4 separate regions of the Homo sapiens genome follow, and regions 1, 3 and 4 are each linked to region 2. The links come from fine-mapping of genetic effects on gene expression. A gene starts in region 2. Each other region holds a variant in brackets. All regions are shown on one strand. Distances are between the middles of the regions.

Evidence for each region. PIP is the estimated chance that this variant, and not a neighbour inherited with it, causes the effect. A credible set is the group of variants that fine-mapping cannot tell apart.
Region 1: its variant is the best candidate, but not a certain one, in a credible set for the expression of CEP72 in iPS cells (HipSci, PIP 0.52).
Region 3: its variant is the best candidate, but not a certain one, in a credible set for the expression of CEP72 in naive CD8 T cells (Schmiedel 2018, PIP 0.90).
Region 4: its variant is the best candidate, but not a certain one, in a credible set for the expression of CEP72 in whole blood (INTERVAL, PIP 0.70).

What each region holds. Positions count from the first base shown.
Region 1 is chr5:638,764-646,054 of GRCh38, reverse strand. CEP72 (centrosomal protein 72) reads right to left here. Exons shown (of 12, transcript NM_018140.4): 8 at 6,831-6,966; 9 at 5,451-5,647; 10 at 1,630-1,756. Among named protein-coding and RNA genes, the nearest start is that of CEP72, 30 kb to the right of the region's middle. RefSeq lists a cis regulatory region at 686 and enhancers at 1,534-1,703, 2,325-2,374, 2,395-2,454, 1,997-2,497, 2,498-2,998 and 2 more. The variant T/C (reference allele first, on the strand shown) is at 3,751.
Region 2 is chr5:607,177-614,467 of GRCh38, reverse strand. It overlaps CEP72 (centrosomal protein 72), which reads right to left and starts at 2,128. Exons shown (of 12, transcript NM_018140.4): 1 at 2,025-2,128. The coding sequence starts at 2,106. It overlaps CEP72-DT (CEP72 divergent transcript), which reads left to right and starts at 2,258. Exons shown (of 3, transcript NR_103444.1): 1 at 2,258-2,316; 2 at 2,715-3,021. It overlaps LOC105374608 (a long non-coding RNA gene), which reads right to left. Exons shown (of 8, transcript XR_007058672.1): 8 at 6,858-7,291. RefSeq lists enhancers at 1,345-2,274, 2,275-3,205.
Region 3 is chr5:648,693-655,983 of GRCh38, reverse strand. It overlaps CEP72 (centrosomal protein 72), which reads right to left. Exons shown (of 12, transcript NM_018140.4): 12 at 2,431-2,996. The coding sequence ends at 2,831. Among named protein-coding and RNA genes, the nearest start is that of CEP72, 40 kb to the right of the region's middle. The variant G/A (reference allele first, on the strand shown) is at 4,065.
Region 4 is chr5:565,418-572,708 of GRCh38, reverse strand. It overlaps LOC105374607 (a long non-coding RNA gene), which reads left to right. Exons shown (of 3, transcript XR_925671.1): 2 at 372-881; 3 at 968-1,665. Among named protein-coding and RNA genes, the nearest start is that of MIR4456, 33 kb to the right of the region's middle. RefSeq lists enhancers at 1,298-1,885, 1,886-2,475. The variant G/A (reference allele first, on the strand shown) is at 2,769.

The sequences.
Region 1 (7,291 bases), 32 kb before region 2:
AAGCCGAATTCACTGTCCACACAGGCCGCCGATGGGAGCAAGAGTGACGCTCCCACAGTGTAAGGAAGCCGAATTCACCATCCACACAGGGCGCCAACGGGAGCAGGAGTGACGCTCACACAGTGTAACGAAGCCGAATTCACCGTCCACACAGGCCGCCGACGGGAGCAGGAGTGACGCTCACACAGCAATTTCTAGTCACAAGAACATCACCAAACCACCAAAGACCAAGACACCTCTAACATTAAACACTAAAATAAATGGGAGCTATGCATACATTTAAGACCGAGTAACAAAGACAAGTTAGACTATTATTTACTCTGTTGTTCCAGTTCAGGGGCAGAGGTGGCTGCAGCCTATCCCAGCAGCTCAGGGCGTGGAGCGGGTACCAGTGCTGATCAGATGCCATCGCACAGCAGGGCGGCTGGTGCCTGCACTCACTCGAGATGGGACAGGTCAGACACAGCAACACCCTGGCGTGCACAGCTTTGGGGCATGGGGGAAAACAGCGCACCCAGAGAAAGCCCACAGAGCCGGGAGAGCAAACCACACACACAGTTCTCCCGGGCAGGGAACTGTTTTTTTTTTTTTTTCTCATCACCTTTACGACGAAATGATGTTGAATGGACACGGTTATTCAAGGACCCGTTGTAAATATAACAGTATCTTAAAGAAACAGAAGATAGAAAAGCAAAATTTATAAATAAAAAAGAAGACTCTAAGGAACTCTTACCGCTCGATAAAACAACCCAATAAAAACCAACGGGCGAAAGATCCAAGGAGACGCTGCCCCAAAGGAGACAGAGCGGCCACAGGCCTCATCCACAGCTGCCTCCCTGCCGCAAAGGCCACCGCTGGTTGGGACAGACATCGTGAGACCCACACGCCCTGAAACGGTTACTACCTGGCCTTTGAGGAAAAGTCCATGAGCCCCTGAGAGGCTAGACCAGGAAGAGATGCTCGACTTGTCAATCTCAGGGAAGTATGAGTTAAAACTTCCAAGAGACTCCACGCCACACCGAGAAGGTTACCGTGGACAGCAGACTCCATCAGCATTTCCTTATTTAAAATCCAGGTATCTGAACTTGAAATACTGAATACACTTTTGTAAAAATAGCAAAACAGAACAAAAAAAGTGAAGAGAGGGAAATGAGAAAGATCTGCATCTTGACCACAGCAGGCCTGCTCGGGAGAGACACGGGTTCACCAGAAATGCAACCTGAATCTGTAACGCTGAGACGCTGGGCAACAGGCTCATTCACCAAATTCGATGGCAGCATAACCATGGGAGGACGCCAGACAGGAGCAGCAAACCCCACAGTGACCAGGCCCCTCCAGCAGCTGCAGCCCTGACACCCTGTGCTGAGGGGAGGACGGTCGGGCAGGGTGAGGACAGGGGTGGCCTTGCCTCCTACATCCATGCCAGGACTGCCCCAGACACACGTGTGTGCCATAAACTCCGGCCGAGGCAGCCTCCACCCCAGCCAGTGAGGCAGGGGCTCGGCTCCCCACTTACCAACTGCGTCTGCTGCTGCTCACTTCCCTCAGTGAAGAATTTAAAACAAAGTCTACCTAGGCACATTTGAACACCTAAAGTTTACAAAGTGACCAAATACACGATCAACTTACCAGCGATCTGCAAATTTAACGTGGCTGCAGTGTCTGCACTCTTCACTTCCTTTTTCATACTCAACAAAAGCGATTTTAACCTACTGTTCTCTTCCAAAGATTTATCTAAATGTTGTCTCAAATCATCCTGCGGACACAGAAAATACACTTAAGTGCACAAGTCAAATTCAGTAAAATGCGTATAGAAAGTAAAACTGAAACCTGAGAATCCCCAGAGGGTTCCTTCTGCATACTTGGGAGTCACGATGTGAAAGGCAGTAATTCAGTTTCACGGTACATCTCCCTGCTCCCAGCCCGCCCTGCCCAGCCCTGCAGCACCCTCAGGGGAGGGGGGAAGTGAGGAGAGGGATGGAAAGGAGCGCCCCAGTCCTGTGAGAGCCCCACTCCTGAGTCTCCCTGAGGCATGTGCTCCAGCAGGACCTGCAGGCCTGATGCTGGGCAGGGCAGCTGGTGGCGGTTGGGGGAACCCTGTCTCTTCCAGGACGCCCTCACGGACACTGCGAGCCCCAGGCCTTGGTGCCAGTGTGAGGCACCGGTGGCCCTGCAGGAACCCCCTTCTGTTCTGGCTCCTTTCATATCCTCAAAGTATGGAGAAGACCTGGAGCACAGGACGAGCTGTCATCGAGGAGGGGAAAGGGCCACGCCTGCAGCTACACGGCAGCCTCTGCCCCTCCCTGGCCCCAGGGTGTCTGGTGAGGTGTGAGCCATCCAAGCCGCCAGCACCTGCGGCCAGGGTCCCCAGGGATCCCGTCTCACCTGGCTGCTGCTCTCTCAGGCACCAGCAGGCACATCCTGGGGCCGGGGGTGCTGAGCAGGCCCCAGCTCACTGCCACCAGGGGAGGGAGCGCCTGAGTCTGTGCAGCAGAAGCCTCGTGCTGGGGGTATCGCCGCTTCATCCTTCTCCGCTCAGTGAGCCCACCCGCCGACAGCCCCCTCAGCATGCATGCACCCGCCAGGCCCCCGACGCCCATGGTGAAAGCTGATCGCTGGGTCTGAGACCATTCCCCTCAGGCTTATCTTGGCCCGTTCTTCATTTCGCGGACTTCTCCCCAAGGTGTCTGCTGCAGTGGCGCCAACCAGCATGACCTGCCCTCCGCGCGGGGCTTTGGGTCGTCCAGAAAGCTCCTGGCAGTGCCACGTCTCATGGTTTTGCCTCCCAAGGATGCGGTGAGCTCTTAAGGCAGGGCTGTGAGCTCCCAGCTCTTTTTCATTTGTTTCTTTGAGGCAAAGTCTCCCTCTGTCGCACAAACTAGAGGGCAGTGGAGCAATCACAGCTCACTGCAGCCCCCAACTCCTGAGCCTCCTGCCTCTACCTCCCAAAATAGCTGGGATGACAGGAGTGTGCCACCACACCTAATTTTTTATTTTTTGGAGTCTAGGCCACGACAGGTGCAGGGAACAGAGGACCGACTGCACCCAAGCTGGGCGCAGCCCATCTGCCTCAGAGGCCGTGCCAGGCACAGCAGCTGGAAGTGGGGCCACCTTGCCTCAGGACACCCGACTGCAGCTTCCAAAGGAAGCAAGGTCTAGGTTCATGTGACCGAGGGATGAGCGTCCTCACGTGGCAGAGTAAACTTGGGTGCTTCTGGAGTGACAGATGTGGGCCTCCCTGGAAAGCAGTGCCCACCAGCCTGCACGGCTGCTCCCTCCGCGGGGTTCCTGACGGTGCTGACTGCTCCTTACCCGCGGGGCTCGGGCTGCCAGATTCTTCTGGATCACTCACCCTGACAGGGAACCAGGGCTGCTCTGTCCAGAGGCCCAGGGCTGCCTGCAAACTGCAGGGGTTAGGCAAACTGCAGAGGGCAAAAAAGCAGGCGTCCACGGCAGCCACAGCTGCATGTGACTCTCACCCCTGGCAGCACTGGTGCTCGGCACACCTTTGGGCTCCGCCTGTCAGCTCTGTCTCGTCCCAGGCTCAGAAGGGCAAGGGGTGTGCCTGACTGTGTCCCACAGAAAAGACATCATCAGTGACGGCGCCCAGCTCACTTTCCAGACAGCCGGTCACGTGTGTTTCAGTATAAAGGCTTCCAGACGGGGGGCCACACGTGTTTAAATATAGAGGCTTCCAGAGAAGGGGCCATGTGTGCTTAAATCCAGAGGCTTCCACCAGATGAGGGGCCA[T/C]GTGTGTTTAAATACAGAGGCTTCCAGAGGAGGGGCCACGTTGGTTTAAAAGCAGAGGCTTCTGGACGGGGGACCACGTGTGCTTAAATGCAGAGGCTTCTAGATGGGGGACCACGTGTGTTTAAATGCAGAGGCTTCTAGACGGGGGACCACGTGTGTTCAAATGCAGAGGCTTCTGGACGGGGGACCACGTGTGTTTAAATGCACAGGCTTCTGGACGGGGGACCACGTGTGCTTAAATGCAGAGGCTTCTAGACGGGGGACCACGTGTGTTTAAATGCACAGGCTTCTAGACGGGGGACCACGTGTGCTTAAATGCACAGGCTTCTAGACGGGGGACCACGTGTGTTCAAATGCAGAGGCTTCTGGACGGGGGACCACGTGTGTTTAAATGCACAGGCTTCTGGACGGGGGACCACGTGTGTTTAAATGCACAGGCTTCTGGACGGGGGACCACGTGTGCTTAAATGCAGAGGCTTCTGGACCGGGGACCACGTGTGCTTAAATGCACAGGCTTCTAGACGGGGGACCACGTGTGCTTAAATGCACAGGCTTCTGGATGGGGGATGGGGGGCCATGTGTGTTTAAATGCAGAGACTTCTGGACGGGGGATGGGGACCCACGTGTGTTTAAATACAGAGGCTTCCAGATGGAGGAGGCCCACATGTGTTTAAATACAGAGGCTTCCAGATGAAGGCCACGTGCAGAGGCTTCCAGGCGGGGTGGGGGGGCCACGTGCGTTTAAACAGAGGCTGCCTGTGTTGTTTTGCTGTGTTTTTCTTCTCTAAAGAGGAAGCGTTGTGTGGGATCTCTGAGATGTTGGTTCCCATGAAACGGACAGTATGTACTTGTCAGACAAGTTCAGAGGCAGTTTTCGAAGCCGTCCCGGGCCGACTTCACTCGCAATTTAAAGATGCTGACAAGGCCCCTCTGGATGTGCACATCCTCACGTGGCTCTGCCCTCACACCAGGACTCCCGGAGGGCGGCTTCTGCCTGGGTGTGGCTCTCTGACCACCAGCTCCCTGTGCTAAGGATGCCAGCAGCCCGTGGGGAGGCCCTTGCAGCGTGGAGGGAGCCTGGGAGGATCCTGTCCCGTGAGGCCTCAGATGAGACGGTGGCCCCAGCCCACGGCTGAGACAGAGCCCCCATGAGGCCTCAGATGAGACGGCGGCCCCGGCCCACGGCTGAGACGGAAGGAGGGAGCCTGGCTGAGCTGAGCCTGAGGCCCAATACACAGAAATCCAAGGTGATAAATGCAGGTTTTCAGCTGCTGGTTTTGGGGTAACTTGCCCTGTAGCCCCAGCTCACCATGGGACACTGGCCGTCATCTCCTTCATAAAAGGAGAGTGGCCTCGGTTTTCCCCAGTTCGAGGCCCTGAGAGATGGGTCAGCAAGACAAAGTCACGTCCAGGCCTGGCTCCTGCAGCACCCGGCACTGCCCAGTGGTGGAGGGTCCCTTGGGCCCGGGGAGAGAAGGTGGCCAGCGCCACTGCTGTCTCCAAAGTGCTCCAGGCCTGTTGTGAGACAGGGCAGGCCGCGTTCCGGGGGTGGCCGGGTCCCGGGCAGGGAGTGGAGACATGGGGCTGCAGAGATGGCAGTTGGGACAGTGTGGCATCAAGGAGCTGCCCTCGTTCCTGGAAGTCAGAGCCATGTTTCCCCCAGTCACATGGACACAGACACAGCGCCAGGGCGGGCTCACCAGCTCCTTGTGTGTGTGGTGCAGCTCCGCCGTCACCTCGCTCATCTCCCGGGCGTGCTGCTGCTGCTGCTCAGCAAGGCGGCTTTGCAGGGACTTACTCTCCAGAGCCAGGGAGCCGACATCTTCACCCACCATCGCAGAGCTGTCCTGAGCTGCTGTGAATTCTTCAACAGATGACAAGATGTGTCTTGCCTGAGCTAGGAGTGAAAACCAAATATTACATTAGCACTTAGGCTTAAAGGATGAAATGTAAACAAAATCGGCTCAGTATGTTTTGAATCACACAGACGATGCCTCAAAAAGACGACAGGTAGGGAGAGGGGAAAGGGGTGTTGGCGCCACAAAACCACCTCAGGCTCTGTGCGTCCACACACGGGCAGGGTGGGAACTGAAGAAAGAGAAGAGGTGACCTCCAAGAAAAGGGGCAACCAGGGGCCGCCACGTCTCAAGGTTTCAGTGGCGCCGCCACAACTCGCTGCGCCTTCCACAAGCACCGACTGCCCTGTGTGGAAACCACCATGCAGACGACAGCTGGCAACTCCACACTGGGACAGTGGCCTGGGCCTGGGACAGTCCCCCCGCCACCGACGATGGCAAGCTCAGGAGGCTCCCACAGGACACCAGCCTAGGGAGAGGGGAGGTTTATGGGGCTGGGGTCCAGGTGGGCTGCGACTGCAGGGCGTCCTCATTCTAGGAGCTGAGGGGCTATAACACTGCAAGGCGCAGTCAGACAGCTCAGAGCCGTGCCCAGGGTCTGCGGGGAGAAGCACACTGGCTAGGCTCCTGAGGGACACACACAGCCACACCCCAGGATGCAGGACAAAGAGAAGGTGCCCCTGGGGACGCGGCATCTCCTGGTCTCCCAGTGTGATCCTGGATGAGGGAGGCCCCAGTGTGCTCATGTACGGGTTGCCTGGTAGAATCCAACAGACCCAAGTCCTCTCTGGGGAGGGACCACCCTCCTGGGTCCCACACCAACCAAAAGCTCTGCAATCCAGGCCCAGCACAGGCTACACGTCTGGGTCGGGGGAGAAGATGCTGAGCAGCTTCCAAACTCCAAATCCCCATGTGATCACAGCCATCAGAACCAAGCCCCTTTGGACAGCATTTTGAGCAAAATGAGGTGACAGGCCCCCCAACACCCCAGAGCACAGCGGGGGACCCACAGGCCCAGGCCCATGTGGTGTCTCCCGAGAGCCCTGGACACTGTGAGATGCAAAGACTGCCAGGGAGGGCCCAGGCGCGGGACCACCACACGCTCGTGGGAGGGGACATAGGAGACCTGGGGCTGAGATGACTCCTAGGTCACCACACGCAGAGGACCCCGGAACCCACACAGACGCTGCCTACAGGGCAAGAGCAGTGGCCGCCCTGACTCACCAAGGAATGCCTCGTTGCTGTGCAGGGACCTGCAGCCGCCCCAGCTCCTGTCCACCAGGTCCAAGAGCGTCTCCAGGAGCGCCGCCTGCAGGGCCGTCTTCTTCCCGGGTAGAGCCGAGTGTGACCCGGGAGACGGCTGTGATGGAAACAACAGCATGAGGCCAGCGAGTCAGTAACTGAGGTCCTGAATGCCAGCAGGTGCCCAAGCGCACCCTGGGATGCCCTCGCACCACGAAGGGGAGGACAGGTGCCCTGAGGCCCCAGCCCTGAGCCAGGTGGAGGGCGGCTCAGCAGTGCCTGCCCAGTGAGGCTTAGCCAGGTGCACCGGTCCTGGATGAGTGAGGTCTCGATGACAGGACAGGACGGGGCCCACACATTCCCAACTCAAGCAGGCCCCAGACTCCTCCCCTCAACCCAGACAGGGAAGCGGAAGACACATCCAGGCCGCAGTCAGAGCCTGT
Region 2 (7,291 bases):
CAAAAAAAAAAAAAAAAAAAAAATTCACAGGTCAAACAGGAAGTATCGAGGGAAATTCTTAAAATACGCTGAACTGGATGAAAATTAAAATACAACATAACAAAATTTGTGGATACAGCTAAAGCAGTGCTTACAGGGAAACTTGTGGCACTGTTTATAATAGAAAATAGGAAAGTCTCAAATCAATAATCTACAGTTTTGCCTCAAGGATTTAGAAAAGTATAAAATAAATGCAAAGCAAGCAGAAAGAAGGAAATAAAAAAAAGCAGAAATCAATGAAATTTGAAACTAGAAAAACACTGGAGAAAAATCAAACCCAAAGTCGGTTCTTTGAAACTATCAATAACATTCACAAGCCTCTAGCAAGACTAAAAAAGAAAGAATACACAGATTATCAACATCAGGAACAGAAAAGGGATATCCCTGTAAACCTTGTAGCACTAATCAGGGAAGAAGGGAGGACTCGGCATGTCCCGAGGTCAGCTGCCCTCTCACCTGCTTCCTCAGAGCCCTGTGGTGCCTACTGCCTCAGGATCACTTGGATTTTGTCACGAGGTTACAGTTCCCCTTAACCACTCTACAGATAATAACCTGGACATTATAAACCGTTAAGTTTTCCATTTGAGATATTCTTTCAGGACCTGGGGACTGATGCCAGCTGGTCTAAAGGGCCCCGCAAGCGGATTCACCAAAGAATGCAGTTTCCACACCCTGATAATTCCATGGCCCTTACCTCCACCAACTGACAACACCAATCTTCCAGCTCCTCACAGTCCTGTTCCTCTAAAACCCCCAGCTCAGGCTGGGTGTAGGTGGCTCATGCCTGTAATCCCAGCACTTTGGGAGGCCAAGGCAGGTGGATCACCTGAGATCAGGAGTTCAAGACCAGCCTGGCCAACATGGTGAAACCCCGTCTCTACTAAAAATATAAAAAATTAGCCGGGCATGGTGGCGCGTGCTTGTAATCCCAGCTACTCAGGAGGCTGAGTGAATCACTTGAACCTGGGAGGTGGAGGTTGCAGTGAGCTGAGATTGTGCCACTGCACTCCAACCTGGACGACAGAGTGAGACTCCGTCTAAAAAAAAAAAACCGCTCAGATCTCCTTGGGGAGATGGATTGAGGCCTCCTTCCACCTCCCTGCTGGGCCCCTGCCAGCCTTAAACTCTTTCTCTGCTGCAAACCCCACTGTCTCAGTGTATTGGCCTGTGGCCCCCACAGCACCTGACTGAACCTGTTGGTCCAGTAACACCTGCAGACCACACACAGACATTAACAGGCTAACAACAGAACACCAGAAACAACTCAACACACACACTCCACAAGTTAGCTCAAATAAGCCAATGCCACAAAACCCCACACAGCCAAGACTCGCGGTGAACTAATATGAACGGTTCTCTAACAACCAGAGATACAGAATTTGTCATTTAAAAGCTTCAAAAACAGAAATTGACATGTCCATATGGTTTCACTGGAAAATTCCAGGAAACATTCAAACAATGAGCACACACTCTACAGAACCTCTTCTAAATATAAGAGAAGGCAACACTTCTCAGCAGTTTATGAGCTCGGCTTCACCTTGACGCCAAAACCAGACAAAAATAAGCCAAAAAGAAGGAAACCGGCCACCAACATCCTCAAGAAGGCCGAGCGCAACAATCACCACAGAGTGGGCCCAGGAGAACCAGGGAGGTGATCCCCAGCGGGAGGGCGGGCTGCGCTCCTGGACAGCAAGGCCGGCTCCCTCTTCTCAGCGGATGTAACCCCCAGTCACGGAACCAGTGACCCGATAGACAGGCAGGGGCCGGGACGCCGGGACCCGAACGCGGGCAGGGGCCGCACCTGGGCACGGGGGGTGGGTCGCTCACCTGGACACGCGCGCCCCGCTCGCCCGCGACCGTTCCGGACGCCCGCGGCGCCTGCGTAGACGGGTCCCGCCTGCCCACGGTCCGCCGCCGCCCCGGGAAGCTCGGCACCCACCCCCCCGCCACCTCACGCTTGCACCCCCGCCCGCCCTCCGGCGCACCCAGGTCGCGGTGAGGCCCTAAGCCGCTCTTCGCCCGAACCGCCTCCTCGCTCAGCACCAGCCGAGGGCCAGCCCGCGCCATGTTTCAAACGGAGCCCTCGGACGGCGCCTGCGCGGCGGGCGGGGCGAGGCTACGAGAGGGGCGGGACCTGCGTCGGCAGAACCGAGAGCCTGGCGGGACGGGGCGGGGCCTGCGCGGCGGGGCGAGGGGCGTGGCTGGGGGAGGGGGCGGGACTGCGTGGGCGGAACCAAGAGCCTGGCGGGGGGTTCTCCTGAATGGCGGTTCTCCCAGGTACTGGCCACGCGACCCCAGCCCCCGCCCCAGATAGCTCCCTGTCAAGGCTTCCCTGGGCGCGGCCGCCTTCTAGGCCCCGGCCCTTGACACACGCGGTGTCCTCCCGGGGAAACCCCGAGTAGGCGCGGTGGAATCGCGGCTGGTGGTGGGCATGGGGACCCTGCCCCATCCACACTCCGCTCCCACCCTGAACCCAGCGCCCCCGGGGACCCCCGACTCACCTAGACTCCCCACCCAACCCGACCCCCCCGCGGGGACCCCTCCAGACACCCCAGCACCCGCCCGGAGCCTTGTCTGCTGCACCTCCCGTCCAGCCCCGGGCCTCCCAGAGGTGGGCGGGAGCTGAGCTTCTCCCCAGCCAGTCACTCCCCACGGCCGGTCCTTCTCCACCCCAGAACCTCCAGAGATGTCACAGGCCCAGCACTGTGGCTCGTGGCTGACCGCGCCCTGGAGGGTCTCGCTGTGTTTATCCTTGTGAGGTCCTTCTACAGAGCTTTCAAGGAAGACAGAGTTCAGCCTGTTTATTGGGAAGACTTTAATCCTGCTCAAGACATCTACTGTGTCACCGTACCACTGTGGCCCAGCGCCTGGTGGAGTGAATCCAGACCCCCAGGGGTGTCCCCTCCCCGCCTTTCTCCTGGTGTCTAGGGGCACCCAGAAACCCTCACCCCAGATTAGACCAGCTCGTTGGCAACATCCCTGGTATGTCACAGCCTGGGGGGTGATAGACAAGGCAGGGTAGTGGTGGGGGGTACGTATGGTGGTAGTAGACGAGGGTATACACAGACAGAGGGTGTACATGGGGAATGTGTGCAGGGGCTGTGTGCAGGGAGTGTGTGTGGATGGTGTAGGGGAGTGTGTAGGGGAGTGTGTAGGGGGTGTGTGCAGAGGTTGTACACGGGGTGTGCAGGAGGTGTACTCAGAATGTGTTCAGGGAGTGTGTGCAGAAGGTGTACATGGGGTGTATGCAGGAGGAGTGTGCAGAGGGTGTACATGTAGGGGGTGTGTGCAGACAGTATACAGAAGGGGTGTGTGCAGAGGATGCACACAGGGTCTCTGCAGGGAGTATGTGCAGTGCTGTACATAAGGAGTATGCAGGGGGTATATACAGGGTGTATGTGCAAGGGGTGTGTGCAACAGTGTGTGCAGGAGGTGTGTGCAGGGTCTATGTGTGGGGGTGTGTGCAACAGTGTGTGCAGGAGGTGTGTGCAGGAGGTGTGTGCAGGAGCTATGTGTGGGGGTGTGTGCAACAGTATGTGCAGAGGTGTGTGTAGGGGCTATGTGTGGGGGTGTGTGCAACAGTGTGTGCAGGAGGTGTGTGCAGGAGGTGTGTGCAACAGTGTGCAGGGGGTGTACACAAGGTGTGTGCAGGAGGTGTGTGTAGATGTGTGTGCAGGAGGTATACACAGGGTTTGTGCAGAGGATGTGTGTGGGAGGTGTGTGCAGGGGATCTGTGCAGGGAGTGTACACAGGCTGTGTGCAGAGGCTATGTGCAGGGGGTGTGTGCAACAGTGTGCAGGGAGTGTACACAAGGTGTGTGCAGGAGGTGTGTGCAGAGGTGTGTGCAGGAGGTATACATGGTGTGTGAAGGTATGTGTAGAGGTGTGTGCAGGGGGTATACACAGGGTTTGTGCAGAGGATGTGTGAGGGAGTTGTGTGCAGGGGATCTGTGCAGGGAGTGTACACAGGCTGTGTGCAGGGGGTATGTGCAACAGTGTGCAGGGGGGGTGTGTGCAGAGGTGTGTGCAGGGGGTGTACACAGAGGGTGGTGGCAGGCGGTGGATGCAAGGCTGCATCTGTTCAGCCCAAGACGTTCCATTGGTCCAGTGGTGTTAGAGCACATTTGGTCAGGTTGCCTTCATGGGATATTTGACAAGCTGCAAACCCGAGGGCATGCTGGTGCCCGAGGGCGCCTCCGTGCTGACCTCAGCATGTGCAGCAAGAGCCAGGGCACAGGGGCGGCCTGGCCCATTTCAGGCAGGTGCTCTGTGGGAGGGTGGCTGTCTCCACTGACAACCCAGGGAGGTCAGCAAGGAGGAGCCCTGAGGTGGACTCGAAAGCTGTGGGAGCTGATGGCCCTCCTGGTCTCTGCCACAGCCCTTAGGCTGTGGGACACACAGCGTCACATTTGATCACTGTTCATGGGGCCTGCCGAACACTCAGCATTCCTGAGTGCAGATCGTCACGTAACTTTCCAAAAATTGCAAACCCAGATATGGCTCCATGACCCCTCCTGCAAGACTGTGAAGGAGTTCAGGGCACAGCTGAGCCCTCACACCCCCAGCCCCATCACTGCCCCTGATATGCACTGAGTGGAATTCTGTCCCGCCAGGAGACAAACAGTGGACAGCATCCTGGCTCTTCAGAAGCACATGACGATGGCAAACTGAAGGCCTCATGGGCCCTCACCCAACAGCAGTGGCTTTTCAGGGCATAACACAGGCCCCAAACACTGAGCCTCTTCCTCCTGGGCAGGTACCCAGCTGGCCAGACAGGGCAGGGTAGGGGCGAGTGGGACCTCAGTGGGCAGCCGGTCCAGGACAGAACCACACGGGGATGTGATGGAAGTACCAATGGGAACTTTGAAAACAATGCCTCTGCTCACCAAAGTATCCCAGCTTCACTGTAGAAAATATAGACACTACAGAAGGGCACCGAGATTCGATATGCCGCCCTGCTGAGATAACCCACACTAACATGCCCACATGTATCCTGCAGGTGTTTTTCAAGCCTGTGCGTATTGACAGTCATGAGGCTATGCTAAGCATTGCCGGATGCATCTGCCACTAAGTAGTCTTTAACGTTGTTTATTAAACACTTTTAATGGTCACGTTAGATCATAAACCAAACCCAACTTTATTATCCTGTCTTCTGCTGCTGAAAGTTGTGTCTGTCTCCACTTCCTCACGGTGCTCACTCTGGTTGGCCAAATCATGAAGATCCATGGAGGCGCGGGAGCCTTCCGGCCTGGAATGGGGCAGCAAAAGCACAGAGCCGCAGAGAAGCCGGGAAAGCAAAGGCAGGGGCTGCTGGGCTGGGCCCCATCAGCCCCATGGCAGCGGCACCCGCACAGGCCTGGGGTCCCCAGCAGCAGGGATGCTGTCTGTGGGCCCAGGGCTCCTCCACAGCTTTGGGGGCTTCCTGCCAGAGGAGGGGGGTGGTTCTCCTGGGAGGGGCCCCAAGACAGGAGTCCCCAGACCTGGGCACGCCTCACCTCGGGTAGGGCCCCAACGCTTCAGCGGGTCTCACTGGCATCCCTAAACCTAGACCACAGGAGAGTGTGCTGTGCCATCATCACGATGACCCCTCCCCATCCCAGCGCACGCTCCCACGACGCACCGTGCTCACAGTGACCCCTCCCCATCCCAGCGCACGCTCCCACAATGTGCCGGGATCACAGTGACCCCATGGGCTACCTGCCGCTCCCAAGGACTAATGGAGGCCTCTGTCCCCAGGTTCTATCCCGGGTTCCTCACAGGGCACCAGCCCTCAGGCCCAGTTAAATTCCGGAGCGGCTCTTTAAGCCCACAGGCCCAGGCCGCTATGGTAGGACCCAGGTGGGAGAGGCTCTCCGTGTGCTGTCTCCCTGACAGGTGCCCCATCCATAGCTTTCTAGAACATCCCAGGGAGGCTCCCAGGCCCCGAGCCTCAATCCTCAAGCCTGTGGGTCCCAGACTGCAGGCTCAGTGAGCCCTACAGAGACCAGGCCAGCGGAAGGAAACAGGGAGACCCACATGGTCAGAGAAGAGGGCTGGAGGTTCAGCCTGAGGGGCCTCTGGGCTTTCTCTAAACAGAGCGGGGGTGGGAGGAGGCTGTGATGTACAGTGAGGGGACTTGAGAGGGAAATGGGGGCCTCCACCCACCCCAGGGACGAGCGCTCACCCCAGGCCCACCTGGCTCGCAGCATCCAAGCCAGGGCTACGCAGAGCAGCTGCTCCCAAACCCAGCTCCCTCTGGGTGCCTGAGCCAGGCTCAGAGATGCATCCTGCATCGTTCTTTCTCCATCCTGTGTCAACAAGACAACACAGGCAACCAGCGTGGCCATGCTGGAAATCCACAGCCTAGCGGAGCGGCCTCGCCTGCATTCATGTGGCCAGTGGAATTCGCGGCACACACATTCGCACTGTCACGCTCAGTTCACGTGTGCACACGCTCACAGCCACAGCACACTCACAGTTCACACACCTCACACGCATACATACACAGGTGTACGTGCACATGCACACTCACGTACACACCCACCCACACACAGTCTCACACCCAGGTTCACACCCACACATGGACCTCAATCCACCGGTACCTGCCACACACCCACACGCGGACCTCCATCCCACTCCAAGGCCTTTCCCCACATCCCCGGGCGGCAGGAGCCCAGCGGTCAGTGCAGAGGCATGGACGAGGGCCAGGGAGGCAGGTGGCACGAGCCACCTGCTCTCCACATCCTTCTCGAGAGGAAAGGAGGTGCCGGCCCACCCTGCCCACAGCTCCTCGGCGAAGCCGCGTCTGGTCCAGGGCCAGCCGCCCCTTTGCTGGTTTCAGTTCCTCCTTTATCCATTCATAAACGTTGAACAAAAGCGCTCTTTTCCCTCACGGTATCTCTAGCAGTTAAGATCAACACCAATATTTGAGAACTGTCAATACTGCATTTTACCCACTTCCCAAATGTGAAACCGGAAGGCACACGTAGCCCTTGCTGGGCTGTTTCCAGTGAACACAGTTGAGGGTGGGCTTGGGGGTTCTCCGCATCGTAATGTCTTAGGAGGGGGTGGGGCCACACCTTCCCACCTTGTCCGAGTAACAGGCCACGTGTGCGGTTTAGTTCACACCGTGGAGGAGGGGAGTGTGAGGGCAGCGGGTGGGCCGCTGTGTCCTGGTCTCTGTCCTGCTGTGTGGCCAGGGAGGGAGTGCGGCTGTCCGATTTAGGTTGAAACACCGTCCATCGGCATCTCTGGGGGATGTTGCCACTGCCCTT
Region 3 (7,291 bases), 42 kb before region 2:
GATTATTAAAAATTAGGATCCAAAATGCTTTAATCATAAAAGAAAATATTGATACATTGGGCCATATTAAAGTTTAAAATTTCTCTTAAAAGACACCATTGAAGTAAAAAGACAAGAAAAGCTATTTGCAAATGTAATTCACAAAGCACTACTACCCAGAATCATAAATAACACCTGCAAATAAATGAGACAGACCATCCAATAGAAAAGTAGGGAAAATACTTGAATAGGTACTTTACAAACAGGAAATCCCAATGAGCCGCAGACACATGAGAAGGTGCTGAACAAGGAGAAGCCAATGAAACCAGAAAGAGGTCTACCCCACACGTTCCACCACCCCGCGCCCTCCGCCACCCCGCGCCCTCCACCACCCCACTCCCTCCACTACCCCACACCCACCGGAGTGAAGGTGCTAACACTTCAGGCAATGGGTGCTGAAAACATGGACCGGCAGACGTGGTCATACACAACTAGCAGTCGGGCCTGCGGGTACCACCACTTTGGAACAGTTGGGAATTTCTAGTAAACCTGTTAAAAACATGGTTAAGCAGTTAATGGAAACGTGAACATAATGGGATATAAAACTAATGAAAAAAATCAAATGGAGTTTTTTTGTTTTTTTTTTGAGACGGAGTCTTGCTCTGTCGTCTAGGCTGGAGTGCAGTGCTGCAATCTTGGCTCACTGCAACCTCCGCCTCCCAGGTTCAAACGATTCTCCTGCCTCAGCCCCCCAAGAAGCTGGGACTACAGGTGCCCACCACCATGCCCAGCTAATTTTCATTTTTAGCAGAGATGGAGTTTCGCCATGTTGGCCAGGCTGGTCTCAAACTCCTGGCCTCAAGTGATCCTCCTGCCTCAGCCTCCCAAAGTGCTGGGATTACGGTGTGAGCCACCCCGCCTAGCCTCAAATGGAATTTTAGAACAAAAATATACCTAATTTCTGATATAAAAAATTCACTATACAAGCTTAACATCAAATTAGGCAAGTGGAAGAAAAGATTAGTAAGCCTCGCAACAGGACAATAAAACCACCTAAAGGAAAGGATGAGAGAACAAGGATGAAAAAGCATCACGTTTAGTGACCTGAGAGACAGTATCACAGTCTAACAGAAAGCTAACTAGAGTCCCAGATGGGGACAGGGAGGAAGAAGTGAGAGACGGGGTCAGACAAGAAATATGAGTAGTGGCTGCAACTTTGCCAAATCTGGTGAAAAATATGAACTCACAGGTCCAAGAAGCTCAATGAAACCCAAACGAGGTAAGCATCTATAAGCTTAAAGTGGATTAATATTAACATCTTCTAATACTCTTACATACATAAATTACGTGATGACAAATTAACCCCATCCCAACCCTACAGAAAATAAATTTGGTATGACACATTTTCCTGTTAGGACCACAACTGGACAGAGAGGTGACACAAGAGGGCAGCCTGAAGCCTAGCAAGTCCTCTTCGGGGAAGAGACAGCAGAGTCCCACCTCTGATTTCCCCAGGGATACAATCCACACGCACACACACACACACACAGAAGCACACACACACACAGCTAGCAGACACACACAGCTAGCACACAAGCACACACATAGCAAGTGCACATACACAACGCGTGCACACACAGCACACACACAGGGTGCGTGCGCGCACACACAGCGCACACACAAGCGTACACACAGCTAGCACACAGCAACTGCACACACACACAGCAAGCGCACAAGCACACACACACAGCAAGCATGCACACACAGCTAGCACACACACAGCAAGCGCACACACAGCTAGCATGCACACACAGCTAGTACACAGAGCAAGTGCACGCGCACAGAGCACACACAGCAAGCGCACACAGCTAGCACACACAGCACACACACACAGCTAGCACACACACAGCTAGCACACACACACTAGGCGCACACACAGCACACACACACAGCTAGCACACACACACAGCAAGCGCACACTAGCGCACACACAGCACACACACACAGCAAGGGCACACACACACACAGCAAGGGCACACACACACACAGAGCTAGCACAGAGCATTTTCTTCTTAGGCCTGCTCATTCTTCCCAAATCAGTTGAACGTCATTTAAAAAATGACCTTGTCTTACCAATCACAGCAAGTATGACATAAGATATGAAGTTTCCAAACTAAAAATCTAGTTTTGTGTCCTATTATGACATAATTTTCAGAACTACACTGCAAACAAGAGAGCGAGCCAGGGCTTGGGTAGATGTTTCCGCTGTGATATGTTAATATCATAAGACAATATTTTTAAGGTTTTTTCCCCCACATCTATAAGTGTCACTTGTGTTAAGTCTTTGAACTTAATTATTCCCACTCACCTATCATGGTGCACAGCTTGTTCTATAAAAAACTCAATGACAAACTCAGTTATAATTTGTATACAGCCACTGAAAAAGTTAACTTTTCAGAACAATGTATTTGTTTATTAAATAAAGATTGCTTGTTACACAGAAAATTATTTTCTTTAATTATCATACATAGCTCTCTTTCACATCAGGCAGTAGAACACTGCATTTACTTCATCTCAGGATACTGGATACAAGATTAATAGTCAGTTTGTCTCAAAATATGTCAATGTGTTCTGTCTGAAAACATGCAGAGGGCTTGGAGTAATCATATCATTTTACGAGGTGCTTTAGAAAACCAAGCTACAGGTCCTGAATACATTCCAAAAATCCTAAATAATTACCAACAGAAGAGAGAACTCTTGCCAGCCAGTACACTCAATAAAGAAGTACAAAGGTGCAGACAATGTAACTTTACCAGGAAGCTTAAGGGGTGGCCCAGCTTCTCGGCAGGAGTCAGCAGGCCTGGCAGCCTCCATGGCTGGCGCTGCTGTGTGGAAACAGGGCCATGGTCTTCTTGAGCTCCTGGTAGCTCCAGTGCATCTGCTCCACCTCGGCTCTGTGCTGCGCCCGCACCTGGCTCAGCTCCTGCAGCAGGTGTTCATTGGTGCTGACCAGGGAGCTGCAGAACAACAGGGAAGCGGCTGCTTGGCACTTCCGTCCTCTCCAGCGGTGTGGCCCTCACCTGCTGGGCCTGCCCACCTCCCTGCATGGGCACGAAGGTGCCCTGGCCCTGCACACAGACCTATCTCTGTGGCCCCATCACCTTCTGTGTCCCACTGGCTACCGCCCACCTGCCTCCTCCTTCCCAACCACTGTCCTGACCCCTGGGAGCAGCCTTGGAGGTGCGGCTCAGCACCTATGGAATGAATGAATGAGCTGAACAGGCTAATGAGTGACTGAATGGCGCCTTGGCTATTCCAGCTACGCATGGTTTTATGAGAAGATGATAAACTTCATGGCTAGCAAAACAATGTTCTAATTCTAGAAAATATACGGGGACTGAAATAGTTCTAATTCCCAGTCAAATATAATAATTTTGACATCATAATAGTGCAATAGAAGAGTCCTAGTCTTTAATGCTGTTGACCATTTTTATTTTAGAAGTAAAGTGCTATTACATTTTACCCACTTTGTCACCTCCAAATTGCCCTAATCACCCAGTCAGCGATGACCTGAGGACACTCAGGGCATTACAAGTATTAGACAAGGCAGGGCCCACTGACCTCGGTCACATTAGCCACAGAGATGGGCACCCCACTGACAGGGCCACTGTGCAGGCCCAGGCCCTGTTCACTTGGACAGCAAAGGAGCCGCAGGCCAGGACTGGATGAAGCCAGCATGAATCCTGGGGGCAGAAGCCCAATGCCACCATGTTTGGGAGCTGTGCACCCTGCCTTGTCCACATCCAGGCCACAGTGCTCAAGGAGAATGACCCCCAACTGTACCTTGACCTGCCACAGACAGGCCCACCAGGTTCCAGGGAGTCACATGGCCCTGCCCACGACTGGGCACTGCACCCGCGGCCGCCACAGTCCCCTTCCTTCTGCTCCGCTGCATCTCCTCTTGGCCCAGTCTCATCTTTCAGGACCCTTCCCCTCTGTAACTTACACCTGTGATGGGCCCCATGGGGGTCTGTGGCCTTTATCCTGTAAGGGGCAGAGCCTGGCTACGCCTATGACCAGACTGT[G/A]GTCGAACCCAGGTAAGTGTGGCAGCCTCAGCCTGAGGAGTGGGGGAGGGAGCGGGAATGGGAGGTCGGGGGAAAGGAAGAGGGAATGAAAGGGGGAGGGGAGGGGGAGGAACTGACCACAGACCAGCCTTCCCTGCTGAGGCCACAGCAACAGGGGTTCACACAGCAGCACCCACAAAACTGCCCAGAGCGACCTGTCCTTGCCTCCTCCAGCAGCTCGCCTCTTCCTTTCTGCACCCAGCCTCCAACCACGTCCCGGCACACAATTCTTAAAAGACAAACTAAGATTCTGCCTTGAAGATCCCCTCACACCCAGCCCCCTTCTCACCATCCCCCTATAGCCAGGGAGTAAAGGTGAAATCTCCGTGTTTCCAACTGAACACGCACTGCAGTGAAGGGGGAAGCACAGCTGCCGGACTACCGCCCAGGGGAACCAGGTTGCCCCGCCGTGCCCGACCATCTCTCATGCACCTCTCTCCCCTGGTCACACTGCACACAGGTCATATCTCACAGTCCACAACTCTCAGTCCACACCTCACATTCACAACTCACAGTCCATGCCTCAGTCACACCTCACAGTCACACCTCACAGTCCACGCCTCACAGTCACACCTCACAGTCACACCTCACAGTCACACCTCACAGTCCACGCCTCACAGTCACACCTCACAGTCCACGCCTCAGTCACACCTCACAGTCCACGCCTCACAGTCACACCTCACAGTCCACGCCTCACAGTAACACCTCACAGTCACACCTCACAGTCCACGCCTCAGTCACACCTCACAGTCCACGCCTCACAGTCACACCTCACAGTCCACGCCTCACAGTCCACGCCTCACAGTCACACCTCACAGTCCACACCTCACAGTCACACCTCACAGTCCACGCCTCACAGTCACACCTCACAGTCCACGCCTCACAGTCACACCTCACAGTCCACGCCTCACAGTCCACGCCTCACAGTCCACGCCTCACAGTCACACCTCACAGTCACACCTCACAGTCCACACCTCACAGTCCACGCCTCACAGTCCACGCCTCACAGTCCACGCCTCACAGTCCACGCCTCACAGTCCACGCCTCACAGTCACACCTCACAGTCACACCTCACAGTCCACGCCTCACAGTCACACCTCACAGTCACACCTCACAGTCCACGCCTCACAGTCACCCCTCACAGTCCACGCCTCACAGTCCACGCCTCACAGTCCACGCCTCACAGTCACACCTCACAGTCACACCTCACAGTCCACGCCTCACAGTCACACCTCACAGTCCACGCCTCACAGTCACACCTCAGTCCACGCCTCACAGTCACACCTCACACCCACAGTCACACCTCACAGTCACACCTCACAGTCCACGCCTCACAGTCACACCTCACAGTCCACGCCTCACAGTCACACCTCACAGTCACACCTCACAGTCCACACCTCACAGTCACACCTCACAGTCCACGCCTCACAGTCACACCTCAGTCCACGCCTCACAGTCACACCTCACACCCACAGTCACACCTCACAGTCACACCTCACAGTCCACGCCTCACAGTCACACCTCACAGTCCACGCCTCACAGTCACACCTCACAGTCCACGCCTCACAGTCACACCTCACAGTCACACCTCACAGTCACACCTCACAGTCCACGCCTCACAGTCACACCTCACAGTCCACGCCTCACAGTCCACGCCTCACAGTCACACCTCACAGTCCACGCCTCACAGTCACACCTCAGTCACACCTCAGTCACACCTCACAGTCCACGCCTCACAGTCACACCTCACAGTCCACGCCTCACAGTCACACCTCACAGTCCACACCTCACAGTCACGCCTCACAGTCACACCTCACAGTCACACCTCACAGTCCACGCCTCACAGTCACACCTCACAGTCACACCTCACAGTCCACGCCTCACAGTCCACGCCTCACAGTCACACCTCACAGTCCACGCCTCACAGTCACGCCTCACAGTCACGCCTCACAGTCCACACCTCACAGTCACACCTCAGTCACACCTCACAGTCCCACCTCACAGTCCACACCTCAGTCACGCCTCACAGTCACGCCTCACAGTCACGCCTCACAGTCCACACCTCACAGTCACACCTCACAGTCACACCTCAGTCACACCTCACAGTCCACGCCTCACAGTCACACCTCACAGTCCACGCCTCACAGTCCACGCCTCACGGTCACCCCTCACAGTCCACGCCTCACAGTCCACGCCTCACAGTCCACGCCTCACAGGCACACCTCACAGTCACACCTCACAGTCACACCTCACAGTCCACGCCTCACAGTCCACGCCTCACAGTCACGCCTCAGTCACGCCTCACAGTCCACGCCTCACAGTCACACCTCACAGTCACACCTCACAGTCCACACCTCACAGTCACACCTCACAGTCACACCTCACAGTCCACACCTCACAGTCACACCTCACAGTCACACCTCACAGTCCACACCTCACAGTCACCCCTCACAGTCCACGCCTCACAGTCCACGCCTCACAGGCACACCTCACAGTCACACCTCACAGTCACACCTCACAGTCCACGCCTCACAGTCCACGCCTCACAGTCACGCCTCACAGTCACGCCTCAGTCACGCCTCACAGTCCATGCCTCACAGTCACACCTCACAGTCACACCTCACAGTCCACACCTCACAGTCACACCTCACAGTCACACCTCACAGTCCACACCTCACAGTCACACCTCACAGTCACACCTCACAGTCCACACCTCACAGTCACGCCTCACAGTCACGCCTCACAGTCACGCCTCACATTCACACCTCACAGTCCACACCTCACAGTCACACCTCACAGTCACACCTCACAGTCCACACCTCACAGTCACACCTCACAGTCACACCTCACACTCAGGGTTGATACCTCACAGCCCACACCCCATGGTCACATACCTCACAGTCCCATCTCACAGTCCATGCCTCGTGGTCACACCTCACAGTCACACCTCACAGTCACACCTCACAGTCACCCCTCACAGTCCACGCCTCACAGTCACACCTCACAGTCACACCTCACAGTCACACCTCACAGTCCACACCTCACAGTCACACCTCACAGTCACACCTCACAGTCCACGCCTCACAGTCACACCTCACAGTCACACCTCACAGTCCACACCTCACAGTCCACACCTCACAGTCATGCCTCACAGTCACGCCTCACAGTCACGCCTCACATTCACGCCT
Region 4 (7,291 bases), 42 kb after region 2:
TCTGTATAAAATTCTGGGTTTGTGGATTTGGGTTTTGTTTATTGGTGGTGTCTGGTTTCGTCAGCTTGCAGAAGCCGCCTTTTCGTTTTCAGACCCCATTGTCTCCGGGCCAGTGATCAGCCACACCCTTCCCCTGGGGGCTCCTCACTTCTGGTGGCTTAATTCAATCGGGTGTCTATGTATCCTCAGCTTTCTGGCGGGTTTTTTTTTTTATTGTGAATTTATAGCTTATGTGGCTTGTTTAGGTTGTTGGTGAAAATAGGCTCTTGAGACTTTCTATATTGTAGCTGGAAGCAGAAGTTGTGTGTATTTTTTAATATAAACTTTTAATTTATTTAAGTAATGTATTATTTGAATTTTTTCTTTTACAGAAAGGTGTCAAGAGTAGCACGGGAATATCTCTCTGACCATCTAGGGGTCTGTTGCTGACTCGGTGCCTCCTTGTCCTGCGTACTCCCAGGTCAGGACATCGGCTTGACTGGTGGCCACCTGCTGACCTCAGAGCCCTCGGAGCGAATCCAGCTGTCCAATTGAAACCAAGCATGGTCCTCTGCGGCTTGGCCTCTTTTTCTCCCGAGATGGTTGCGGGGCACTTATTGGGTGAAGACCCTCATTCATTCTGGGGTGTGTCAGGAGTTTCTTCGAGACAGGACCAAGCTATGAGCCTGTGGCAGGAGCATCCGAGGCACAGCTCAGCCTCTCCCGTGCTGCACACCCCTGTGTGCAGGTGCCCTTGCCCGCAGCCGCGGCTCCAGGTCCGCGTGGAGTCAGCTGCTGCTGTCAAGCATTTTCACAGTACAGTTACTGGTCTACTCCAGCACAGTCACGAGGCACCTTGAGAGGCTGCAAAAGACCCCTAAAGTCTTCCGCATCTTTATCATGTAAGGATGGGCTTGTGGGTTCCAGCTTTATTCCAGGGTCTATGATTTGGGACTGTCATTGACACCCATATGTTTGTCTTTTGCAGTCCTCAAGGGATGGGTTCCAGGACCCCCGAGTTTAACCCACCTGCAGGAGCTCAAGTTCCTGATGTAAAATGATGTCGGATTTGCAAGTAACCTGCACACATCCTCCCGGTACTTTAAATCATCCCTGGATTATTCATTGTACCGAATACAATGGAAATGCTATGTAAATAGTTGTTACACTGTGTTGTTATTTTTATTTGTATTTTTTCTATATTGTTATTTTTTATTCTTTTCCAAGTATCTTTGATCCTCGGTTGAATCTGTGGTGCGGAACCTGAAGACGTGGAGGCAGGCCGTATTTATTTCTATACACTCCTATTCGTTTTGCAAATCCTAAATTCACACAGATGCCTCCAAACCGAATCCAAGTCAGAGTTTGTGACAGTTTTCTCTTTTCAAAATCTGAAACTCTGACAGTAAGACCAGCTCCCAAGGCCTCTGACACATTTGCATCGTGGATCAATCCCCTTAGGTGACCATCCCCTTAGGTGACCATCCCCTGCTGGAGATGCCCTTCCCTTCTGGCCTGGGCTCGGCTCCCCTGCTGTGTGGACAGCCCTTGCCGGCAAGGGCTCTGATTCCCCGCAAGGCCACACCAGGCCCCGGCCTCCTGCCCCAGGCTGGGGCTGACTATGCAGGACACCCCACCCCCACCAGCCTTGGGGTCTCCGATGCTAAGGTAGGGGCTTTGCACCTGCAGTGGGCAAGGCCACCTGGGCACAGGTGTGCGGGAGGAAGAGCCTCTCAGGAGCCAGTGGAGGTGAGGCTCAGGAGCCAGAGGAGACGTGGGAACAGCAGGAGGGTCCGGGGCAAAGGACCCAGTGCTGCCTTGAAGCCAGAGGGGGCTTTGTGGAGCACACGCCTGGGTGCAGACCCCACGGGGGCCGCACTGCTAATCTGCAGGTGAGCACACGCCTGGGTGCAGAGCACACGCCTGGGTGCAGACCCCACGGGGGCCGCACTGCTAATCTGCAGGTGAGCACACGCCTGGGTGCAGACCCCACGGGGGCCGCACTGCTGATCTGCAGATGAGCACACACCCGGGAGCAGACCCCACGGGGGCCGCACTGCTGATCTGCAGGTGAGCACATGCCCGGGAGCAGACCCCACGGGGGCCACACTGCTGATCTGCAGGTGAGCACACGCCTGGGTGCGGACCCCACGGGGGCCGCACTGCTGATCTGCAGGTGACCTTATTGGGTGTAATCCCATGGCTCCCCCATCCACACAGAATTCCAAACAAGGACGAAACACCTGATAAGAAACCAATTAAACCCTGTTTCTTCATCAGCTTTTATTTTACATGATAGGTAGAACCTAATCTCATAGAGGGGATGGGCGGGCCGCTTCTGTTCCCAGACCAGGAAAATGGGCAAGGGCTTTGAACTCCCGCTGGGGAGGTCCAGCTCCCAGGAAGGCCCTCTAGCCACACGGAATGCTTATCTGCTGACGGCCTGGAGGCCACAGGCTGCCCAGGACAAGGCTGGGCTGTGGTCAGCAGAGGGAAGGTGCTGGGGTGAGGCAGGAAGAACTGGCACAGCTCTAGGGCTCACCGGGGACCAACGAGGTGGCTCCCTGCAGATACCAGGTCCACGAAGTCGAGAAGAGCCCGGCGGATACACAGCGCCTTGTCGGCGGCACGTGCCCCCAGCATGCAGCCCCAGGGGTCTGGACTCTGTGCCTTCACGTTGCTGGCCTTGCTGGTGGGCACAGCCCATCCCTGCACACTCGTTGGCCGGGGCCCAGGGCCAGAGCCCCCCGTTGCCCGGAACAGCAGCGGGTTTCCAGTGGTCAGCCTGC[G/A]GTGGCTACCCGTGCACACCCCCTTCTTTGTGGCCATGTGGATCCTGGTGGCCCTGTCCTCTCTGCTGGGTAAGTGCCTGTGTCGGCTCAGGGTTTCCATGCCTGTTCGGCCTCTAGAAGGGGCGGCTCGGTCAGCAGGGCTTTTCTGGTTTGGTTTCACGGTTCCTTGTGTGTTTTAAATCTTCTTCGAGTAAGCGCTGGTCCTCTTGCGGCAAATGGATCACCGAGGCCATCGCTGGGCCTCCCTCCCCGATGCCCCTGAGAGACCAGACACCCTCAGCTCTCATTCCACACGGCCGGCCAGCGGGGTCTGGAGGAGGGAGGCTATGCCTCAAAACCTGTTGAGCCTTTGAAGGGACTTTGTGGTGAAATGGCCACCTAAGCCCACGCCGTCCAGGCTGCACTGCGCAGGCCCGAGGGAGCCCGTCGGCTGCCATCAGAGAGGGCCCCGGGGCCTGGCCCCACCTGGGTGTGCACAGATGGCCACCAGAGGTTGTGATCCCATGTGGGGGGTGGGTCAGCCGTTGCCTTGCAGCTCTTGGTACATTTGTTTCCATTTTTATTTTGAGTTTGCGGAGATTAATGTCAACCACTCACCATTCTCTAGTCCTAAGAAAGCCGCCCAGTAACTGCAGAGAAAATCATTCATCTCTTGGGGCAAATCAGATTTGGGGCTCAGTATCAACCTTAACAAAGAACTGACCACCCAGCAAGGGCTGCGACTACGATGAAGATAAACAAAGAGGGCATGACAGTTAGAGCTGATTCTGAGGACCTCCTCTTTACAAAAAGAATTCGCCCAGCTGGGATGTCCCTGTGGCACCGGTGTCTGCACTCAGGACTGGTCAGCCTGGGGCCAGGGTGGGAGGAGGAAGGGGTCTGGGGGCTGAGGACCTGGCTCCAGCCCCACCTGGACACTGGGCACCACGTGGCCCTTTCTAAATGTTAGGACCGCTGACCCTCAGGCAGCGGTGGGTCGACTGGGAATGCGGGTCAGTGGGAGGGGCGGGTATGGAAATGGAGGTGGGTGCTTTGCCATTGCAAAGACACCCACAGGTGAGCCTGTGCCATGCCTGAGAGGCCCCAACAGACCAAGGGTCTGTTTGCAAAAGGGCTGCTGACATGATGGAGAGGAGAAACGGGAGAGCAGCAGGCGCAGGAGGCACCAGGAGGGCCAGGGGCGGTAGGGCCAGCTCACGGTGCTGAGGGGGCAGAAGGCCCCCCCGGGGTGAGGGGGGTGCGGGAGCTGCCGCGATGTGTCTGGGCTGTGAATGTGGGGCAAGGGGCCGGGCAGGTGGAGGACAGGACCCCTGGAGGGGCTCAGAGATCTGAGAAGCCAAGTTCAAGGGGGGCTCTGTGCACATTTTGAAGTTGCCAGTAATCGAGGCACGGGTCGATGTGGAGAGCTGCTTTGAGCCAGGAACTGAAACCCTAGAGAGAGGAGGGGATGCCCTGTCACGGGGATGCGGGGGCAGTGTCGCGATGACCCAGGGTTTAGGAAAGAGGAAGGGAGGGTGGCCTGGAAGTGGTGAAAGAGCTTCGGGATAGGGAAAGGGGGAAAGGCTGTGGCTTCCAGGAGGGCTGCAGCCAGAGACAACAGCTTCAGGGCTGGGTGCAGATAGGAGGCCCCAGGGCTCTGCTGTGAGTGCAGGATGGTGGGGCTTGCCCGAGTACAGCTCTCTCGACCCCGAAAGACAGGCGGAAGACCCAGGGGGAAAAGGCCCCAGGAACCCCTGAACCATTGCTACGGGCGTGGCTGTTCAGACAACAGCAACCGCGGGAGGGGAGCGTAGGGCTCTGCCTGCAGCCACGCTCTCTCCGGGATGTACTCTCCAGGGGTCCAGCAGGGCTGCAGAGGCCTCCTGGCTGCTGGCGGAAGATAGCTGCAGCAACCTCGCTCCCAGGCCCCTCAGAGAGGCAGCCCCTCAGCCACAGGCGAGTGTTGCAGGGGTGCAGGCCCACACGGGCGGCAGCTGGAGGGCAGGTGGGCTGGGCAGGCACTGGTGCTGTCTCCTGGCTTCCCTGAGCCATGGAGCCATGTCCTGCCTCCTGCTAGCGGCCGTGGGGGCCATGGGTTCCTGTTTATGGCCTGTTGTGTGTGCGAGGGTCACTAGCAGCTGGGGTCGCTGGACGTGTGAGCCTTGGACCTGAGTAGATCCTGCCCAGCTCAAGGGGCATCACCGATTCCCGTCCTCAGTGTGGGAGCCTCCACACCACGCTGCACACTGCTCTTGGTGCCAGCAGGTCTGAATTGTGGGTATTCTATGGTGTCTCGTGGGTTTTACGTTTTAGTTTGCATCTTCCCATCACTAATGAACCCATTCTTGTCTTTACGGATGCTCCTGTGACTTGCCAGCTTGAGTCTTCCGTCCACTGCTCTCTCTCTCTCTTGTTCTGGGCATTCTCTGCATGGCCTGGGTGTTCATTCTCATCTTTACAGATGTTCCTGGGACTTGCCTGCTTGAGTCTTCTGTCCACTGCTCTCTCTCTCTCTCTCTTGTTCTGGGCATTCTCTGCATGGCCTGGGTGTTCATTCTTAGATTTTAAAATGTTTTCCAATATGATGAGTCTGAAGTGGTGGCTCATTAAGTGAGTTTGGCAGTTTATTATGGGGTTTTCCGTTAGACACCAAAACCAGAGAGAATACGATTGTGACCCCGAAGACCCTTCACTTCCCATTGGGATCTCCAGGCCCGTTCTATTTTCCCCATTGTCTCTAGTCTCTCTCCCTCCCTGTTTTGTGCCACTGGCTGTGACGATGATGGGGACGCCTGTCTCATGTCCCCATGGACTGAGGCGCTGCTTTATCGCGTGACGTCACCCACTCTCCCGCCCCTCGGCAGGCTCTTCTCTGTGGTTTCACCCGGGGCTGTTTCCTTCAGCCTAAGAATGCCCTGGTTATGTCTTGTGGTGCAGATCTGCCTTGGTTTCTCCAAAAATGCCTTCACTTTTCCTTCGTGTCTGGGGTGCTTCTGTGAGCACAGGACTGCGGGCTGGCTTTACTTCTTCTTCCTGTCTGGGGTGCTTCTGTGAGCACAGACTCGGGGCTGGCAGCTTTCTCTCCTTTCACCACTGCTGAGATGCCATTCAATCTTCTTTTGGCTCCCATGGTTTCACTGAAAGTCAGCTGTGAAACCTTTGTTGTTTCTTTGAAGATAAGTTCCAAAAATTATTTATAAATGTAATACAATTCCAATCAGAATCCCAATAGGATTTTTAAAAATAGAAATGAACAGGCTGTCCTGAATTTTACAAGGAGGTATAAACGATCAATAATGGCCAGGATGAGTGTGGTGAAGACCACAGCAGATGCCAGGATTTATTATCAACCATTTATTAAGACAGCATTACATTGGCTCAGGAATGGGCAAACAACCTTATATCCTTCTTCAAACAAAAAATATGGGTTGCTTGTCTTTTTCATATTGATTTACAGAGTTTTGTTTTTCTGGATACAATTTTTTGTAAGTTCTATGACTGGCAAATGCCTTCTAGTCAAGATCTTTTTTTCTCTCATTTTTACAGTATGCTTTCTTAAAGAGAAGTGTTGAAAACTGGAAACTATTTCACTGTTAGACCTATCCTTTCAGTTTTTAACTTTTATTGATGGTATTTTTCAGCGATTCCTCCTCCCCTGGAGACTACGTGGGTGATATTTAGTTATTGTCTTAGCAAACTTGTATGCTTTTAGTCAGCGAATTATAAGCTATTGGGTAATCTTTAAAGTATGTGAAATAAAGCCTCATCCTGGGAGGGGTCGCCTTGTTGCCTAAGGGCTCCTGGCCCAGCTCTGCTAGAGTAAGAGCTCAGTGTCTTGTTATCAGGGACAGAGAGGACCCTCCAGTCACACACTGCACCTCGGTGACTCGGGTCACAGAGGTGGCCCAGGGCTGTCCCCTCACCTGTAAAATAGTGCAGGAGCAGCACCTGCTTCACCGGGCATGCTGCAGGCAAGCGGACCTGGCACTCTGGGAGCCAAGCCCTGCACACGGGGCGCCCTCTGTTGTTGTTCTTCTTGTACGGGGCAGGCACACAAGAGTCTCGAGTCCTCCAACCCAGCCCGGGGCTGCTGGGGCCACATGGAAATGCGGCTGCGCCCCTCTGCGGGGGCCTGTGTCGGCGCCGTCCCCTCAGCTGAACCCCCCTGCGGGGGCCTGTGTCGGCGCCGTCCCCTCAGCCGCGCCCCTCTGCGGGGGCCTGTGTCGTCGCCGTCCCCTGAGCTGAACCCCTCTGCGGGGGCCTGTGTCGTCGCCGTCCCCTGAGCTGAACCCCTCTGCGGGGGCCTGTGTCGTCGCCGTCCCCTGAGCTGAACCCCTCTGCGGGGGCCTGTGTCGTCGCCGTCCCCTGAGCTGAACCCCTCTGCGGGGGCCTGTGTCGGCGCCGTCCCGTCAGCCGCGCCCCTCTGCGGGGGCCTGTGTCGTCGCCGTCCCGTCAGCCGAGCCCCTCTGCGGGGAGCCTGTGTCGTCGCCGTCCCCTGAGCTGAACCCCTCTGCGGGGGCCTGTGTCGTCGCCGTCCCGTCAGC